Linked DNA regions of Homo sapiens. The protein of the gene in region 3 purifies or fractionates together with the protein of the main gene of each other region. This does not show direct contact. Each region holds a gene or a part of one and is shown on either strand. Other genes may lie near its edges.

Region 1 (5,282 bases), on a different chromosome or scaffold from region 3:
ACTGATATATACATCTTTAATCCCTAGAATATTTAACTCACTCAGAACAGTCGATTTAGATGAACATTCTTTTTTCAATAATATAGAAACTTTCCCACTAATTTTAATATCTGCATATTTATAATAACTTTTATAGATGGCATAACTGAATAAACTTTTTATAGCCTCCATCTAAAAATATAAGGTTTATGTTGAATACTTTTCTAAAATTTATACTTGAATATTTTTATAAAGTTTTAATTTCCATTCCATATTTACTTCACTTTACAAAATTAAATCCTAAAAGGGAGACATGTAAATCCATTTTCAAAGAAATTATCTCTATTTTACTCAGCGTATCCATTTTCTCCACAACTGTTCTTCCCAAGCCTTCCTTAAAAATCGTATCTGTTGCTACCACTCTCTGAAATTGCACTACTGAAAGTTAAAAATAAATGATTAATCATCAAATCTCCTATTTTTTTCTTATAGGTCATGATTTCCTACAATATTTTTCTTTTGATTTACATTAACCTGCCCTTTCCTACCTAAATCCTACCAATCTTTCAATATACATCTCCAATCACACTAGTTCATCTTGATTAATCTTAATTCATCTTAATAGAAACATATACCAATAACATCTTATATAACAAGGAACTAAAAATTCAGAGAGTAAGTCTCATGTCATTTAATATCTGTATTATTTATTGAGACTCTCATACCATAGTAATTGTCACTAACTATGAACCAAGTAGCTTATATACTCTTTGAAAGTAGAAACCTCTTATTTCTTAATGTCTCTGAGCAGATCGTCATGTACACAGTAAGCCTACTGTGCTTATTGAATAAATACATAGATTCTGAAAACATTACCATATAAACTTGCTTAGATTTCATTAAGGTACTTTATTAAAAATATTATAGTTTTGTGTTAAGAATCTCAAATATGTAGAATTATTAAAGGTATCAAAAAATTAATTACTTCATTATATATTATCCTTGCCCTGATTTAGAACAAACTATAATATATATTTTCTTTTTTTCTTGAGACAGAGTCTTGCTCTGTCGCCCAGGCTGGAGCGCAGTGGCACAATCTCGACTCACAGCAACCTCCGCCTCCTGGGTTCAACTGAGCATGTCCAGCTAATTTTTGTATTTTTAGTAGAGACGGGGTTTCACCATGTTGGCCAGGCTGGTCTCGAACTCCTGACCACAAGTGATCTGCCTGCCTCGGCCTCCTGCAGTGCTGGGATTACAGGCGTAAGCCACCATGCCCAGCCATAATACATACTTTCAAACACCTGCATGTTTATATAATTATCTAGCTAGGTACTATAATATATGAAACTATGCTCTAATGAGACTTTCTTCACCAATCTTTAAATGAGTCATAAGAGCCAAGATAACAAGCCACAGTACCCAAAATTACACTTAAGGACTAGGCAGATGGCCGGGCGCGGTGGCTCATGCCTGTAATCCCAGCACTTTGGGAGGCTGAGGCGGGCGGATCACAAGGTCAGGAGATCGACACCATCCTGGCTAACACAGTGAAACCTTGTCTCTACTGAAAATACAATAAAAAAATTAGCCGGGCGTGGTGGCGGGCACCTGTAGTCCCAGCTACTTGGGAGGCTGAGGCAGGAGAATGGCATGAACCTGGGAGGCAGAGCAGTGACCCGAGATTGCGCCACTGCACTCTAGCCTGGGCGACAAGGCGAGACTCCGTTTCAAAAAAAAAAAAAGACTAGGCAGACAACATAATTTTGAATGCTACAGTTACATGTTATAGCTTTAAATTATATAAATTTTAGCTTTTAAATCATATTTTGGGTTATTTTCACTTATTTGTAAATAGTCAAACTATATTTATTGATTTTAAAATGTGGAAAGTATTTTGTTTAATTATTTCTAACATATAAATAAATACAACTGTTCCTGTGCTTTCCAAGTATAACAGAAAGTGATATTTTTAGTAGTATAGAAAGAAATGTTCTTGAATGTTAATATTCAAAAGTACCGTTTTATTCATTTAATCAATGAACAAATAAAAATTTAAATTTTCAAGATAAGGAGAATCATTACCTTTAGAAAGAAATGATTAGCTCCTTACTTTCCATCCCAATGAAAGCAAAGGAAACTGAGACAAACATTCTTTAATTTAAATCTTATATTACCCCAATCATAAATTGTAATTACAAGTATTATCATGACATTTTATATAACCTATAAAACTGTATTATATTATTTTATAAAAATATTTTTAAAATGTTCAGTATATAAGAGAAATGAACACAACTTAAAATCATATGACATATTTAGACATATCACAAGCCAAATCATGTCCTTTTTACTCCTTCGACAAATAACGATAAGTGGTAAAAACCCAACAGAGTATGGTTACCATACAATCTGAGTGTTAGTTCTACTAGTAAAACACTAAGATCATAATGGATGTACATCTTATATAACTAATGTATCATATCTAAAACAGAAAGGTAGAATATCACACCTTATTATTTCCATAGGCCATATCCATTGCTTCTAGAGACAAGGAGCAAAGTGCATTTATTAAATGATGCAGTGATACATCATCAAGATACCTAAAAAGGAAATGAAGAAATAAGACATCTTGATCTAAAATATATAACAAATAACAATGTTTTTATCAATTAAAAAAACTGACTCTTACTGTGAGCTTTCAAACAATCTTGAAAGTATATTGGAAATCACTGGTAAATCTGTCATCACTGCTGTTGTTAGAACCTGAGAAGAATAAAATTAAATGTAATATATGACACTTTGGGATGCACTAATTGGGTAAGAAAGACTAGAGCTTACTGTACTGGGTCCTTCTACAGCTCTCCCAGGTTTCAAGGCACCGCCACTACTAGGCTTTAATCCCAGAATCCACACAAGATGCTGTAAAATTAAAAAAAAATCAAAACAAATAACTTTACAAAAGTATAAAAGGTCCAATAACTAAAATTAAAATCAGTAGTAACTTCTAGCAACCAAAATTAAAATCAGTAGTAGGTTTTTAAAACCTAAAACTAAAATCACTAATTAACATTCATATAAAATAATTAATGATATCGAACATATGCAGCAGAGCTTAGGCCATTATGAGAAGCATTCCACCACTTCCTACAATATGAGTCACATCTTTTTCCCTTTCTAACTTCTCTTTTTTCATACTTACTATCTATTTTTTAGGCCTGTCCAAAACATCAAAATACATTGCTTAGTCTAACTGTTAGCAATTATATATAAAAACAACACTAATCTCTGACCTAGACACTTTTACATACCTGAAGAGTTGCCAAGACAAGTTGCCATGATGTTCCAAGAACAGCCCCATGGCAATGCGCCAAGTTAAGTAAAGTCCTCATACACTGGATATTTTTGGAAGTCAGCTATATTTTAAAAAGGATACATTTTCAATAATTGTTATGTATTCTTAAAAATTAAAAGCTTATAAAGTAGCATTAATGTGTTAAAAGATTTTTTTAAAGAAAAAATTAAGAAAAAGATTTGGAAGGTTTTATAAGGAACAATTCATTTGATTAAAAGTTGTATTATCATATTGGTTACAGTAATGTCAACTGCATAAACTAGTTTCTTCTAGTTTAAGAAAGTAGTTCTAGTAAAAGAAAGTAAATAAATGTATGACACATTTTGGCAAACACAAAGATAGGTACAACAAGTTTCCTTGATAGCTAATTGATAACCAAGAAAAATACAAGTACATTACCATTACTGTCCCTTGAGGCTGGACTGCTAAAGGTTGACCCACTGCCACAACTTGTTGGTGAGATTCACTTGATGGACTTATCATCATAACACTTTGGCCCTGAACGGAATATGCTAGAACACAAAGGAAAGCCTAAATAATTAAAATATATTTTTATATTGCATTTAAAGTAATGTTATATTTAAAGTTTGATTAAACCAAGTTTAGCCATACACTTATTTAAATATCAGTAATACCTAATATCTGTATCAAAACATTTAAAAAACTCATGAGGGGCTGGGCACAGTGGCTCACACCTGTAATCCCAGCCATTTTGGGAGGCTGAGGCAGGCAGATCATTTGAGGTCAGGAGTTCAAGGCCAGCCTGGCCAACATGGTGAAGTCCTGACTCTTCTAAAAATACAAAAATTAGCCAGGTATGTCGATGCACTTCTGTAGTCTCAGCTACTCAGGAGGCTGAGGCAGGAGAATTGCTTGAATTCAGGAGGCGGTGGTTGCAGTGAGCCAAGATCTGGGTCACTGCACTCTAGGCTGAGCGACAGAGTGACTCTGTCTCAAAAAAAAAAAAACAAAAAAACACAAAAACTTCATGAGGTACAAAAACCAAGACAAGTTAAGCAAATATTAAGTAATTTTCTATACAACATAAAATTATATAACTTTGGTAGATTTCTTCATAAGCAATACAGAACTCGAACACATTCTAAGTATTTTAAACATGTATCCCTGGTATGTTTTTTAATTTAGAGAGCAATACATTTTCAGTTTGAAAACTGAGTATTAGCATGTAATAACAACTACTTGGGAGGCTGAGGCCGGACTGCTTTAGCCCAGTTCAAGATCAGCCTGGGCAATATAGCGAGATCCTGTCTCATTAAAAAAGTATAAACAAAAAAACCCTAAATATTACACTGAAATTTATATTACATGTAACAAACAAGTATTCTTAAAGAATTCAACAAGAAAATAAATTTTTGAATGTAAGTTTAACCTAAGTGGTTACAAACATTACTGTTCTACTAGTTCCATTAAAAAAAAATAACAATCACCATTTCAATGGTATCTCATAGTTTACAAAGGACTTCCAGATTTATCTTATTTTCCTCTCACAATTATTGTTTAAAATTGGTATTACAAGTTGAGTATCCCTTATCCGAAATGCTTAGGATCACAACTGTTTCCGATTTCAGATTTTTGAATATTTATATTATATATACTTATGCATTTATTTGCATAATATATTTGTAAATACTTATGTTTGCATTATATACCTATTCACATTATATACTTATCCAATGAGCCTTTCCTTTGTCATGTTGGTGCTCAACAAGTTTTAGATTTTGCAGCATTTTAGATTCTGGATTTTTGGATATCCCATGCCCACCCCCCACCCCCCACCCCATATTTTTAAAGAGCTCTCAGGGACATTAATTTCCCCAAGGTCACACAGTCAGTATGTGAAAAAGCAGAGACTTAAACTCAGATGTTTATAATCTTCTGTCTACACCATATCATCCCACTACATAGAGAGAATTTTGAGTAAGCCTGT
Region 2 (4,587 bases), on a different chromosome or scaffold from region 3:
TCCACAGATGGAGAGTTTTTCCCCAGGATGAATCATACCCAGGATCTCACTAATACTGAAATTAGATGGTTAAGATAATAAGATTTGGGACTTTTAAGCTGATAAGATTTAGGTAATACATGTGACTTTGAATTGATTCTATAATGAATTGAGACTGTGGAGTATATTGGGATGGGGTGTATGTATTGTGCATATAGAATGGATATAAACCTTTGGGGCCAAAGGGAAGACTAGCAGGCTAATGGTTCCCCAAGCATGTCCACATCCTAATCCCTGAAACCTGTCAATATGTAGCCTTATGTGGCAAAAGGCACACACTTTACAGATGTGATTAAATGAAGGATCTCAAGATGGGGAGATCATCTTAGGTAACCCAATGTAATCACAAAGGTCCTTATAAGAGAGAAGCAGGATGGTTAAAGACAGAGATGTAAAGTGGAAGAAGAGGAGCCACAGAGTGGGAGCAACCCCTGGAAGATAGAAAAGGCAAGAAAACTGATTAATCCTGAGAGCCTCCAGATGGAATGCTGCTGTGCTAACACCTTGATTTTAGCCCACTGAAACTGATTTTAGACTTGTCTACTCTAGAACTGGAAGAGAATAAATTTGTGTTGCTCTAAGTCACTAAATTTGTGGTAATTCGTTACAACAGCAGTAGGAAACAAACTCAGGAACCAACATGAGCATGAAGCATATGTGGCCTGCTGTGCTGTAATGAAGATTTTTGTCTCTGACCCAAGACTCTTGTGTCTTCTGGCAGCATCCATGAGACTATGGCAAGCTGATTTGCAGAAGGGGCAAAATCTTGGACCATTCACAGTTCTTAACATTTAGTTCATAAAAATGATGATATAGTCATGGGTATTTGTCTGACGTTTAAGTATCTTTCAATCTTCTGATCAATAAATCTACTTCTAAATAAGATACCACTTAAGTAGCTGTGAACTTTAATAATAGCCCATGATTTATATTTCATTAAATAAATTATGAATAATCATACTCATATTAGAAGTTAAACTCTGGCCAGGCATGGTGGCTCATACCTGCAATCCCAGCACTTTGGGAGGCCAAGGCAGGCAGATAACTTGAGGTCAGGAGTTCGAGACCAGCCTGGCCAACATATAGTGAAATCTCGTCTCTACTAAAAAATACAAAAATTAGCTAGGCGTGGTGGCACGTGCCTGTAGTCCCAGCAACTTGGGAAGCTGAGGCAGGAGAATCACTTGAACCCAGGAGGGGAGGCTGCAGTGAGCCATCCAGCCTGGGCGACAGAGCAAGACTCCGTCTCTCAAAAAAAAAAAAAAAAAAAAAAAGTTAACAAACTCAGCATTCTTTAATACTCTTGCTCTCTTGCATAAAAAATTCATGAAAATAGCATCTATTTATAAAAAATATGTTAAAGTAGCTTTAATTACAAAAAAATTCCATGCTTTGTTTTACTATTTAGAGTCTTAAAGAATGATATTTTCTTTAAAATACACAATAGAAAAGGGATTTCTTTTAGCGAAATAATCCCTAAATCTCATGCATGGCTCAGATCACCAGAATCCCAGAGATGGTACAGTCAGCACTGCCTACTCCAAGAAGTTAGGAGACATTATAAACATGGTACAACTTTTTGGGAAACAAAAAATTGGATGTGTGAAAATAAAGAACCAGAGGAAATTTCTGTGCAGTCAAATGCATTTATTTTGTAGCTTAAGCAAGACAGGTGGTGAACAAATTCATAATGAAAATGCCACCCAGAGGTTAACAGCTTGCCATGCATGCAACTGTGTGCGCAAAATCAAGTTGTTTTAATACCAGTGTGCAGCTTTGATTCCTCCATGAAATTAAAGCTGTGTTGCTCACTTGTTTACATAACTCAGGCCACCCTGAATATCTGCTAGTGGGGAATTTACAACCCACTGACCATCTCAGCTCAAAGCCAGATGACTATCACCTACACATCTGCCAAGGTAATAGCATGGCAAATAGTATTTTTCTTGTTCTGTAGCCAATGGCACAGATACACCAACACAGAGATACCCAGAAGGCACCTCCTCTCATTCAGCTGACAAGCTTCCTAACATTTCTTGGGGACAAGAGTACCATACATGTACTACGAATTGGTACTTATTCTGAGGCAGGGGATGGCTGTCTCCAGGTTAGAGCATGGGTGGTTGGAAGTTCTCAGAAGAGCTGTTTCAGCACAACCCACCAGAAACATTGGCCACCATGACTGTGTAAGATGAGTCTCCTGACATTCTGGTAGACAACCAGATCCCCTGACTAAAGCTTGGCTCAATTAGGGTTAAGTGGAAGGTACAGAGATTTGAGAGAGCCTACAAGAGATACGAGGCAGTACCCTAGTTTATACTGTTTTATGTATAGCTCAGCCTCATCTGAAGGCAAAGTCATAAATTCACAAAATATTAGAGGTGGGATGGATCACTCTAGACCTGTCAACCTACAGTTAAAAATGGGGCAGCCCAGAGAGGTAAAGCAACTCACCAAAGGTAGAGCATAGTAGTGGCAGGGCCAGATTAGAACATGGTAGGCTAATCCTCACCCAAGAATGCTGACAATAGGTATTTGGCCAAATTTTTCAACAAGCAAAACGAGCTAGTATAAATCAGAGGTGTCCAATCTTTTAGCTTCCCTGTGCCACACTGGAAGAAGAGTTGTCTTGGGCCACACATAAAGTACACTAACACTAACGATAGCTGACGAGCTTTAAAAAAAATAGCAAAAAAAAAAACAAAACTCATGTTTTAATAAAGTTTAAAATTTGTATTGGGCCACATTCAAAGCTGTCCTGGGACACATGCCACGGGTTGGACAAGCTTGGTGTAAATACTTTAATACTCCCAAAGCTCCAAATGTATTAAAAAGCAAAAACAAAACAAAACAAAAAACCACTCAGCTTAATCAGCTCAGCTCTCTTCTAAAGGGGTCTCTTCTCTGCCTCTCTGTCTCTATCTCTATGTCTCTCTCTCCCCCAAACACACACAATTTTGGTGGATGTAGATTTCTTGCTACATAAAGATAGAATCCACATCTTCAGGAAGACCCTTTACAGAGCATGTTTCTCAATCCAGGTCTTTGTGTGAGGTCTGGGAAAGTGGCTTAGTTTCCAGAACAATAGGTGGTTCAGAAATCAGAAGATCATCCTCCCCAAAGTAGTTCTGGTCTGTGTTCACAAAGTTGGGGATGTCAAACTTCATGAGCCTGTTCAGCTCCTCCTCTGGCTGCCCACTGCTTCTGATGGCTTCCTGGAGTTGGACGTCACTGTCAAGGGCTGTGGTCTGGTGACAAGCTTTGGCTCTGTCCAAGCGTTCCACCTCATTGATGTAGCAGTGAAAGAGAGACCTGGACTCCTCGTTGCCTTGGCGAGAAAATACTTTATCTGGCTCCAGAGGTCTTCCAAAGTCTGACACAAAGCTGTTCATTCTGAATCTCTTCTCTGAGGACTCTGCATTGCTATTTAAAAAAAGAAAATAAAAGACTGCTTACACTCCAGCCCATTCACCTGCAGAATCATGGTTTTCTGCACGTAGGGCAGGCCAGCACATTTCCACTAAGCACCTATTGAGTGTAAGCCCCTTGCATGGCATGCAGACAAACATGAGAAATAAGAGAAATCCCTTCTGAGTATGTACAGATAAACCCAAGGCAAAGGCTTCAAGATGAGGGCCCCCAGATCATCCCGAAAACAGACACCTTGCTGAGGAATTCCCCAATATTCTGCAGACACACCAGTATTTTTCAGTGGAATTCTTGGACCATTTGCATCATAATTACTTGAAGTGCCTCTTAAAATGCAGATTCCTGGGTCACAGACCCTCAGAATCTGTGAATGTAGGCTCAGTAATAAGCATTTTCATATATTCTCTAAGGATCATTACTCATACTGAAGTTTAGAACCACCGGCCTAAAAACAATAATACTGTCTCATAGGGGTACATTAAATATTTGCCAAAATGCTATAATATCCATTTTTCTCACTTGATTCTCAAAAGTAACCAATACAGTCAGTTAGGGCAAGAATTATGATGTGCATTTTACAAACGTATGAACTCAGGTAAGGAGCAGTCAAATTGCCCACTTAGTCACACAATCAGTTTGTGGTATGAGTGGGAATAAAACCCAGATTCCTAATTCCTTGTTTCCTTTAACGTGGAACAAATAAGCAGTTCAAGGGTAATAAATGAGTCAATGAGTGAATAAAATAACTCTCAATGAGTCCCACAAGTGCGTGAAAGAAAGAGCCCAGGTAAGCTGAGAACCTGATACTCCATCTACTTTAATCACCATCCTTTCCAGACTTAAAGAAGGATTGCCCATGCACAGGTAGTGACTCCTTAAAGGCACAAATCATGACTGAATGTGTTTTCAAGTCCAGAACAGAACCTGACAAAAATCAAGCCCTGGAGTTTGTGCTCAACAGATGTGTAATCCTCTCAGTGTTTCCAGTTCTTAAATCTCTTCCTTCCCATCCTATCACTCAGGAGAAAGCACTTATGACCAAATTCTGTAAGAATTTGGGCAGAGGTGAAAAACAAAAAAACAAAAACAAAAAAAACACAGGTCTGGAAAACCTGATTG
Region 3 (5,882 bases):
CTCCTGCCTCAGCTTCCCAAGTAGCTGGGAATACAGGCACGCGCCACCATGCCCAGCTAATTTTTTTTTTTTTTTTTGAGACAGAAGTTTGCTTTTGTCCCCAAGACTGGGGTGCAATGGTGTGATCTCAGCTCACTGCAACCTCCGCCTCCCAAGTTCAAGCGATTCTCCTGCCTCAGCCTCCCAATTAGCTGGGATTATAGGGTTGTGCCACCATACCTGGCTAATTTTTGTGTTTTTAGTAGAGACGGGGTTTCACTACATTGGCCAGGATAGCCTCAATCTCCTGACCTCGTGATCCGCCCGCCTCGGCCTCCCAAAGTGCTGGGCTCACAGGCGTGAGACACCTCGCCCAGCCTTTTTTTTTTTTTTTTTTTTAAACAGAGTCTTGCTCTGTCACCCAGGCTTGTGCCACCACACCCGGCTAATTTTTGTATTTTTAGTAGAGACGGAGTTTCACCATGCTGGCCAGGCTGATCTGGCCTCCATCTCCTGTGCTTAAATGATCCACCCACCTCCGCCTCCCAAAGTGCTGAGATTACAGGCATGAGCCACTGAGCTCGGCCCATAATGTTTTTAAAAAGTATATCTGGAGATATTGACACAATTATGAATGCAGGCTGTAACACTTAGTAATATGGTCAATAAATTATTTTGCAATTTCAAAGTATCATTACAAAACTAATTTAAAAAGCAGCCGGGCGCGGTGGCTCATGCCTGTAATCCCAGCACTTTGGGAGGCCGAGGCGGGCGGATCACGGGATCGAGAGATCGAGACCATCCTGGCTACACAGTGAAACCCTGTCTCTACTAAAAATACAAAAAAATTAGCCGGGCATGGTAGCCGGCGCCTGTAGTCCCAGCTACTTGGGAGGCTGAGGCAGGAGACTGGCGTGAACCTGGGAGGCGGAGTTTGCAGTGAGCCGAGATCGCGCCACTGCACTCCAGCCTGGGCGAGAGCGAGACTCCGTCTCAAAAAAAAAAAAAAAAAAAAAGAAAAAACTAATATAAAAAGCTGTTGAATTTCTAAACGCATTTCCAATTGACCTTTATCAATTGCCAATAGTTTTCAAAGTGACAAATGCTGAAATTTCTAACGTTACTTTGGAATAAGCAAATATCTCTCTTTGTTATAGATCATCTGTAAAACTAATGCCATATTGAAGAAAGCCAAAGTTATAAAACTAAATTTGTGAAACAGCCCTTTATTCTTTCCTTTTCTCTTTCTAGGATGGGTTGAATTAGTACTAAATTTGGGTTTCATAAGGGCGAATTTATCTTTGAAATGGATTTTCCTCCCATCAGGTAGTCTTAATTGCTTTATAAAAATCTAAAATCTAACACAGGTTTTTAAAAAGTAAATTTTTCAAGCAGTTCATTTCCTGATGTTCGGCCCAAAAGTAAACACTGAGTATATACATTTACTTCAAATTAAAAACTGACGACCGGAAAGCATACTTTTAAAGGTAATGTCCTTGTGGAAAAAGAATTAAGAATCACGAGAACGGAACTGCTATTTGCTACCTCTGGTTTTCCGTTCACAGAAGCACGAGGAGCCCAGCGCTGCGGCTCTGCCTCGCTGGGCCACCCCTTTCGGGCACGACCGGGAGCGGGTGCTCCTCACACCGAGCGCCCGGGCGAGCACAGCTGCAGCCTGCGGATGGAGCCCAGAGCCCTGCCCTGCAGATGACGCGCCGCTGCAGCTTCGCCCACCCTCCCACAAAATGGCTGCGGGTGGCGCCAGGGATGCTGGGCGCGCGCTCCTTGGAACTAGAGAGGAGGTGGCCGGGGCGGGGCCGGGGGAGGGGGGTAGGGCAGAGCCGGCGGGAGCCCGGCGCTGATTGGCCGGCCTGGCTGGCGGGCCCCCGCCGCTGGTTCGTAGCCGGCGCAGCGGCCTGGGCTGGGATGTGAGGAGCGGCGGGTTCCGGGCTCCGGGCTCTGGGTGGCGGCGGCTGTGAGCGGCGGCACTGCGGCGCAGGCCAGCGGGCGCCGTCGGCGGCTGGCCCTGTCGGCCGCGGGATGAGGAAGCGGACCGAGCCCGTCGCCTTGGAGCATGAGCGCTGCGCCGCCGCGGGCTCGTCCTCCTCCGGCTCGGCCGCCGCGGCGCTGGACGCCGACTGCCGCCTGAAGCAGAACCTACGCCTGACGGGCCCGGCGGCGGCTGAGCCGCGCTGCGCAGCCGACGCGGGAATGAAGCGGGCGCTGGGCAGGTGAGGCTTCGCGCGGAGCGGGGGGGGGGGGGGGGCCGGTCCCTCACTTTGCGCAGGTGCGTCCCGCAGGGGGCCGCGGTACCTCCCAGCCCCTCCCAGAGTGGCCGTCCGCCCGATCCGCGGCCGCCCCCGTCCGCGCCTGTGTCCCGCATTTGGCCCGCGGCAGCCCCACCCCCGCTCCCTTCCCCAGGCACCGCGGCGGGAGCGCCCTGCCCTGCCGCTGACCCCCTGTGTCCTGCTCCGGCCCTCTCGCCAGGCACTCCTGGCCTAGCCTTGCACCCCGACCCTTTCCCGGGGAAGCCGGGGGGACCCTTACGCTGGGGGCTTGGCGCCGCCCGAAGTCATGACCCCGCGTGGGAGAGCAGGGTAGGGGGTGGGGAGTCCTTGGAAGATCCCTGGACGCCAGGCACAGCAGAGGCGGGAGGCAGAGGGGCCGGCGCCAGACCCTGAGAGCGCTGGGGCCCACTCGGACCTCCTCCTCCTGCTCTGCATCAGGCCCCACACCGAGCGCCCGGGCGGGCGCCCCTCGGGCTGGGCTGCGTGCGCGGAGCCTTACTGGCGCCTTGGGCCCTCGGCGGCTCTCCCCGGTAACTAGGGTCGGGGGCGTGCGTCGCTCAGAACTCGGGGACCTTTGGGGAAGGGCTCAGTGGGCGGCGGGGTGCTAGGGGAAGGAGGGACTCGGAGCATCGCAGCCGTCGGAGGGAAACCTGCCCTTCGCTCTGCTGGTGATGGTTCGTGGTACTTGAAATCTGTCCGCACAAGTTCGCCTCCTTGGGAATCATCTCGCAGTCCTGAGTCGTTTGGTTATTGGCGTTCAATAACCTTTGGGTTATTGGGTAGAAGATGAATGCGTTTATATAAAGCCACTTTCAAAACTGAGATGGGAACGTGTTTCATAGGGACAGATTTCTCCTCCCATCTGCTGGTTTCCTAATTATCTGGCTGTTGTAGAACGTAGCATTCCTGACAGCTTTGAAGCCTTGCTACTTCGTGGTGGTTTGAAGAAGTTACTATATGATGATCTCAGGCGTTGTAGCAGAGGCACTTCTTTTTTGACCATCTGGAATGCCCTTAGTTGACGCTGGCCACTTGAGTGTAAAATATGCGTATCGCTCCTAAGGAAAAGTAGAATTTCAACTTCATTGCTTAAAAAAATCATGAAATTAAACTATAGACACTTCTAAGTCGATGGTTTGACAGAAGGGCGGAGACTGATAGTTTTGTGTCTTTATGTGTAAAATTATGTAGCATCTGATCAATATCTTTTGTGAAACTAATCTGTTCTCTTTGCTATGGAAAGATTTATCTGCATTAAAAACTCATGATTTAACTTTAATACAATTTTATTAACAGACATGGCATAACGCTTAGATAAATTGGAAAATTCTTCCTTCGAAAAAATCAAATTGCCGGGCGCGGTGGCTCACGCCTGTAATGCCAGCACTCTGGGAGACCGAGGCGGGCAGATTATCAGAGGTCAGGAGTTCGAGACCAGCTTGACCAACATGGAGAAACCCCGTCTGTACTAAAAATACAAAATTAGCCGGGCGTGGTGGCGCATATGCCTGTAATCCCAGCTACTCGGGAGGCTGAGGCGGGAGAATCGCTTGAATCTGGGAGGCGGAGGTTGCGGTGAGCCAAGATCTCGCCGAACCGAGATCGCACCAGTGCACTCCAGCCTGGACAACAAGAACGGAACTCCGTCTCAAAAAAAAAAAAAAAAAAGAAAAAATCAAATTGTTTTACACAACGTTTGGGGAAACAGCGGCGACCTGGCACCTTCTTGAAGAATGTACTGTATTAAAATTACCCGATTAATTTTTATTTTCGTGTCAGGACAAAGAGAGACATTCCAGTGGTGTCCATATCCTTTGGATAAGCAAAAGGCTGTTAGGGGTAAAAAGCAAAACAAAGGGAAAGAAGACCAAATTTGTTAGGTTGTCTTCCTTCCCAGCTGGCTGTCTCAGACATCCTTGAGCTTTCTTCTCTTCCTCGCTCAGGCTCTGCGCCACCATCACCTCCTCCTCACTGAGGCCTTCTTAGACCAGCCCACTCCTGTCGACCTTGTTATCACTCGAGATTGTAATTTTTGCTCGTGTGCCTCCCCCGCAACCAGAATGGAAGCGCCATGAGAACAGGAGCTTTGTTTTCTCCACTTAAGTATCTCCAGTACCTGGCACGTAGTAGGTAGCAGAAAATACTTGTTGAATGAACAAATATCCATAGAACAGATATCCATTGCGCCACAGAGCCGGCTCGTTTGTGTCTTTTATGATCCTTCTTTGGATCCTTCCGCACATTTTTTAAACTCTTTATTGTCGACATACGTGGAAGTAGAGAAGACAATCTAATGAGCCTTCTTCATGTGTCCATCACTTAAAAGTTTTCAGTGTTTAGCCAATTTTGAATCATCCATCCCTCTTCTCTTTTTTTTTGTAGGATGAAGGATTGGATTTTTTTTTTTTTTTTTTTTTGAGAAGGAGTCTCGCTTTGTCGCCCAGGCTGGAGTGCAGTGGCAATCTCGGCTCACTGCAACCTCCACCTCCCAGGTTCAAGCAATTCTCCTGCCCCAGCCTCCTGAGTAGCTGGGATTACAGGCGCCCGTCACCGTGCCTGGCTAACTTTTGTAGTTTTAGTAGAGACGGGGTTTCACCATGTTGGCCAGGCTGGTCTCGAACTCGTGACCTCGTGATCCACCCACCTCGGCCTCCCAAATTGCTGGGATTACAGGCGTGAGCCACAGCGCCCGGCCTGGAATATTTTTAAACAATTTTTTTTTTAAGAAAGTTCCGTCACCCAGGCTGGAGCACAGTGGCATGATCATGGCCCACTGCAGCCCAGACCTCCTGGGCTCAGGCGATCCTCCCATATCGATGCTGGGTGTATGCCACCACTCCTGGTTAATTTTTTTTTTTTTTTTTTAATAGAGATGAAGTCTCACTATGTTGCCCCCAGGCTGGTCTTGAATTTCTGGCTTCAAGCGATCCTTCTTCCTGGCCTCCCAAAGTGTTAGGTATGAAATACCGTGCCAGGCCTAAATTCTCCTGCCTCAGCCTCCCGAGAAGGTGGGATTACAGGCATGTGCCACCACACATGGCTAATTTTTGTATTTTTTGTAGAGATGGGGTTTCACCATGTTGGCCAGACTGGTCTCCAACTCGTGACTTCAAGTGATCTCCCTGTCACGGCCTCCCAAAGTGTTGGGATTACAGGTGTGAGCCACCATGTCTGACCTCTTTTTCTTTTCTGATTGCATTGTATTTCTAGAACAAAGTTAAATAATAGGGATGACACTGAGTAACTTGTTTCATTCCTGACTTTAATGAGAATGCTGTTAGTGTTTTTGCCATTTAAGTGCCATGCTGGGGTGTGTTGCTAATGTTGTGGGGAGCTTTTTGTTTTTGTTCCTGCTCCCTCACTGATGTTTTTAAAATAAAAAATGGTGATTGAGTTTTCTCAAATGCCAGTGTACATCTGTGGAATGATCATAGAGATTTTCTTCTTTTATCTGTTAACATAATGAGTTATAGTAATGGATTTATATTATTGAATCATCATTGTATTCCTGGGATAAACTCTCTTATTGTATAGCCAGATTCTATTTATTCATTTATTTTTTATTTTTATTTTTTGAGGCGGGGTTTCACTCTGTTGCCCAGGCTGGAGTGCAGT
Region 4 (4,338 bases), on a different chromosome or scaffold from region 3:
AGAGGCATGGAGTGTTCTACCTACCTACCATTGTTATTTAAGAGAATTTGAGCTGTGGTGGGTAAAAAATAGTTCTAATGACTTAGTTAGAGTACTTAACTCATGTTAATAGTTCAACAAGAAGCATACATAAGTGAATTGATGATATTGCAGAGGGCAAATGGCCTGGAGCTGGATGTGGCTGTATGAGAAACTAAGAATTTCCTTCTTTTTGCTATCATTGCTTTGATAACATGTGTTTCTTACTGGAACTTGTATGACTCAAATACTAATATGTAATAATTCACTTCATCAATTATTCTGAGCTCTTCTTTAGAGTTCAAGTGTGTTTTACAATTATTTGTCTTTCTTATTTTATTAACCTGAATCTTCGGAAAAGCTGAATTTAAAAAAGTTGTTTTTGCTTTCTTGTTATTTGGGCCACATTTTTTTTAACGACTAATGATTTTTCAATAGTTGGATAGTTTGGGAAAATAAAGGTCTTTATTTTACACACAAAGGAAAGCATCTACAGTAATAACTAAATGTTTCATGGACATATATGATTAATGAGGGGGAAAGGAAAGGTACAGGATAGAGCTGATATAATCCTGAAAGGAGTGGGGCAAAAAATGCTGCAAGGAGGCCAGCTACTGGGAAGTCGTGCTGAGTTTCTATTTCTTAATTAGTTTGCAAGTAACAAAGGGAAGCTTTTATGATGGTGACGATATCATATGGAGTTACAAAGGGCAGGAAGGATATGAATAGGATTAGAAAAAGATTCGAGCTTTCAATCGCATTTGTTCTGCTGCTTACTAACAATGTGCCTCTAGGCCTGCCACCTAACCTCTCTGACATTTATTTTCTTTACTGTAAAGCAATTGAATGCAACACACTCTTAAGGCACTTTTCAGCTTTCAAGTAGGAAAAAAGACAAGTCTTTTCATAGAGGGTTACATGTCTATCACCAAGTATAATTTGCAAGATGGATTTGAGGATACTGGAAAAATAAGTCAATATTTGTAATAACACCCTGAAAACTGAAGAACATTTGGGAGTTAGCTGATCAAGGTTCTAGGCCTGGTTTTGAAGTAGTCAGTTACTTTGGGCAAATTTTCAAGTTTCTCTAAGGATTAGTTTCATTTTCTGTATGTGCCACTTGGCTTATATGGTCACTGAGTTTTCTATCAGCAATATTTGTTATCTCCTTTGCTTTTTTCTCCAGAAAAATTACTCAAGGGTACAAGTTAAATCTCTAAAATACACAGTATCACAATACCAGTTTCTAAAATATTTCTGCAAGAAGTTAAAAGGTTTTGAAAAGATATGCCAGAATGAGTCAACATACAGGTGCTTTTGCTAGGGTTCATTAAAAAAAAAAAAGAAACAAAAAAACACTTGCCCCATTTGAATAATGATTTATCAGGCTTTAGGAAAACTAAATATAAATCAAAAACCTAAGGAAAAATCGATTCTTATTTTCAGATCTTTATCTATTAAGAGGGGATGAAGGGTGGGTAAACGCAGGGATGTAATGGGAGTAGTGTGTACCAATTGTGCAAAATAACTAAAACAATTATGAAATGCTTACATATTCCTGGCCAGTATAACTTGAATTATGAATGAACCATTAAAGACAAAGATTCTTAATCAACCATTTATCTTTTCCTTTTAAAATGTAAGGCATCAAACTTGGAAGATCTATAACTATTTTATTAGACGGTAATATATAAACAAATGACAGTTCAGATAATATTTTTAAAGTGCTATGATCATTGTAACTTTAATCAGATAAAACGTAATTATTATTAACATTTTTACATTATAGCTGATTTGTCTAAATTCTAATTACAATAAAATATATCGTTTTATCTTATCAAATAGTTTTTATATTGAGAGTGAAAGAAACAGTAAAATAGTCAGAGGAAAAACTAGTGCCATACCCAAAAGTATTACTTCAGAAATTTACTTTAATATCATATTTATATTAAAATATTTTATTTGTCTCCATGGTATTTCTATGAGATATTAGACTGTTTGTCCCTATATCCCTATTTTACTCATGGAGAAACAAACATAGTATGTTTAGTAAATTTTTCAAGGTCATTCACTATGTCAGAATAGCGCTGGGAATCTAATTTATTATATTTTTCTTGTACAATACAGCACCTAACACAGCGCCCTAAAAGAGTAGGTATTCAATAAACAGTCATTGAATGAAAGAATTAATGGACAAACCATTCTGTTCTATGAAATCTAAAACATCTATCATATTTGCTATTTCTTTACTCAGTAAATTCAGCAGGCTGGAGGAGCAGTTGAGCAATAAACTTTATGCACTCTCCTACCCACAAGTTTAGATTGTCACCTGAAGGGGCTTTGCAAGATGGTATTGTCTGGTCATTCCTGAAATTATACACTTCCAGGATGTCCCACATACCCCATAAAGAGAGTCATTAATCTGGTTCATGTGACACTGGCTTTCGTGGTGTGAATGTGGTCCACCAGCTTTTGGCAGAGACCAACTTCTTTCACAAAAGTCTCCAAAAATGCATTATTAGTAATGAATGTATTACTGATACCTAGCCTAATGATTTTTAGTGACTGTTTTATATCTTGGTCCTAAAGAACCGTAGTTAGTGGCAATCCTTGAAAATAAATCACTTGGCTAGTATTGGCTCTGGCTATCTCAGGCCTTGCTGATGGTAATTACAATGCTAGAAAGGATAACTCAATTTATTTCCTGAGTTAATTTGTCATAAGTTCAGTTGCAATTGTAAACATGATAAAGGTCACAGAGGCATGACTTTTAGAGTTGATAAAAACAATGTAGTAAAGAACACGAGTATTTATATTACCAGGAATATGACAAAAACATAACAGTCATTCCCAGGGATGCACTGTCGAGTAGATTAAAAATTGTTATCCATGTCATTGGCACTGATGACCAGTTACCTAAAATACAAGTAAGACATCTCACGAAGGCATTTAAGGCTAAAATGAATTCCTTAAACTTTGATGGCATTCATATTTTGCCATTATGAGAAAGAAAAACATTTTACTTCACAGAAAGAATGTATTAAAGTGAAATGAAAATATTTTTATATTTGTCACCCAAATTTAGTGATTGATCTAAAATTTCACCCAGGTGACATTTTTATTAAGACACAGTCTGGAGAAATTTCAGAATTCCACATCTCATTTGCTAATATTTTAAACAAACGATTCACCAGACCTGACTAATTGAATGGTGTATTTCCACTGGACTGAATGTCCTAATTATCATTCAAGACATATCTTAAAGATTTATCAAGCATTTACTCTCCACCTTACCATGTCTAAAGCTCAGAGATATTTTGAGCTCTAAAAGAGTATCACAAGAAATTTATAGCAGTCTGTAGTACAACTATTACCCATTCTTAGAGCAAAGCCACAACTAAAATAGAAATAGACAAAAATAAAATAAAATCATTAAGCATCAACTTATTGGGTAAATTAAGTTTAGATACCCATATGATGCAAAAGGGTCACTTTTATATAAGCTTCCCCATCTTTTAAACTTAGAGCACAGTCTATGTTGTCATTAAAAAAATAATAGCTAACTGAAGCCAGGAATTCATTTTGCAATTGTGTCAATTATTTTAAAGATACCATTATTAAGTAAACTTTAAATTAGTTTGTGTACAACCTTATAGTGACTGGAAATAAGATAAATACAAGCACCCCCTCCCACCGCAGCAAACACACATAACAGATTCTTGAGACTTAGACCCTTAAACATGTCTGCTCATCACTCAATCCATTTGGCCACCCTTTCCGTCCACACCAGGCCAAAGAGCAAAATGTTTTCACAGAAATTCTCTGGGTTGCATATTCTTAATTGCCTGAACTACTGTGGACAAAACATCACATTTTTAAAATCTTAAAGCACTTGTAAGGGTCATACATGTGTGTTTACTGTCCTTGTTGCTTCTGTCCTGGAGAATTTGCTTGACCAGAGCTCTCTCCAGGGCGGTCTGCAGGAGTGAAAGGAAACTGAAATCCATAGCCATTGTACCCATCCAAGTAGACACACTGGAAGAAACTGATGGGACCTAAGGAACAGAGCATGACAGTTTGTTAAAACATGCAGAACATGAGCAAAAAAGCACAGTGAGGCAGTGCAGTGCAGCAGATAAGGTCACAGATTCTGCCAGCAGCCTCCGTAGCTGTTGGCAAGTTACTAAACTTCACTGTGTCTTGGAGTCTTTATGTATAACATCAAAACAACGAAAACCGCACAGAAATATTATGACAGTTAAATGAGTTACATGAGTTACATGTGCTCTTAAAATTCTTCCTGGTATGTAATAAGCCTTT

Evidence for each region. The genes of interacting proteins can lie anywhere in the genome.
Region 1: the proteins of ABHD12 (region 3) and MON2 purify together in Homo sapiens (affinity purification with mass spectrometry; one large-scale study listed by BioGRID and IntAct). This does not show direct contact.
Region 2: the proteins of ABHD12 (region 3) and MRAP2 purify together in Homo sapiens (co-immunoprecipitation; one large-scale study listed by IntAct). This does not show direct contact.
Region 4: the proteins of ABHD12 (region 3) and TRDN purify together in Homo sapiens (co-immunoprecipitation; one large-scale study listed by IntAct). This does not show direct contact.

Annotation. Positions count from the first base shown.
Region 1 is NC_000012.12:62,535,715-62,540,996, reverse strand, and holds part of MON2 (protein MON2 homolog), read right to left. Parts: intron 3,847-5,282; coding exon 3,734-3,846; intron 3,396-3,733; coding exon 3,291-3,395; intron 2,902-3,290; coding exon 2,821-2,901; intron 2,746-2,820; coding exon 2,672-2,745; intron 2,583-2,671; coding exon 2,492-2,582; intron 1-2,491. UniProt on the Homo sapiens protein: Plays a role in regulating membrane trafficking of cargo proteins. Together with ATP9A and DOP1B, regulates SNX3 retromer-mediated endosomal sorting of WLS away from lysosomal degradation.
Region 2 is NC_000006.12:84,087,966-84,092,552, reverse strand, and holds the end of MRAP2 (melanocortin-2 receptor accessory protein 2), read right to left. Parts: intron 3,463-4,587; coding exon 3,072-3,462; 3' UTR 1,672-3,071; downstream 1-1,671. UniProt on the Homo sapiens protein: Modulator of melanocortin receptor 4 (MC4R), a receptor involved in energy homeostasis. Plays a central role in the control of energy homeostasis and body weight regulation by increasing ligand-sensitivity of MC4R and MC4R-mediated generation of cAMP.
Region 3 is NC_000020.11:25,386,841-25,392,722, reverse strand, and holds the start of ABHD12 (lysophosphatidylserine lipase ABHD12), read left to right. Parts: upstream 1-1,887; 5' UTR 1,888-2,019; coding exon 2,020-2,210; intron 2,211-5,882.
Region 4 is NC_000006.12:123,214,668-123,219,005, forward strand, and holds the end of TRDN (triadin), read right to left. Parts: intron 4,074-4,338; coding exon 3,934-4,073; 3' UTR 1,672-3,933; downstream 1-1,671. UniProt on the Homo sapiens protein: Contributes to the regulation of lumenal Ca2+ release via the sarcoplasmic reticulum calcium release channels RYR1 and RYR2, a key step in triggering skeletal and heart muscle contraction.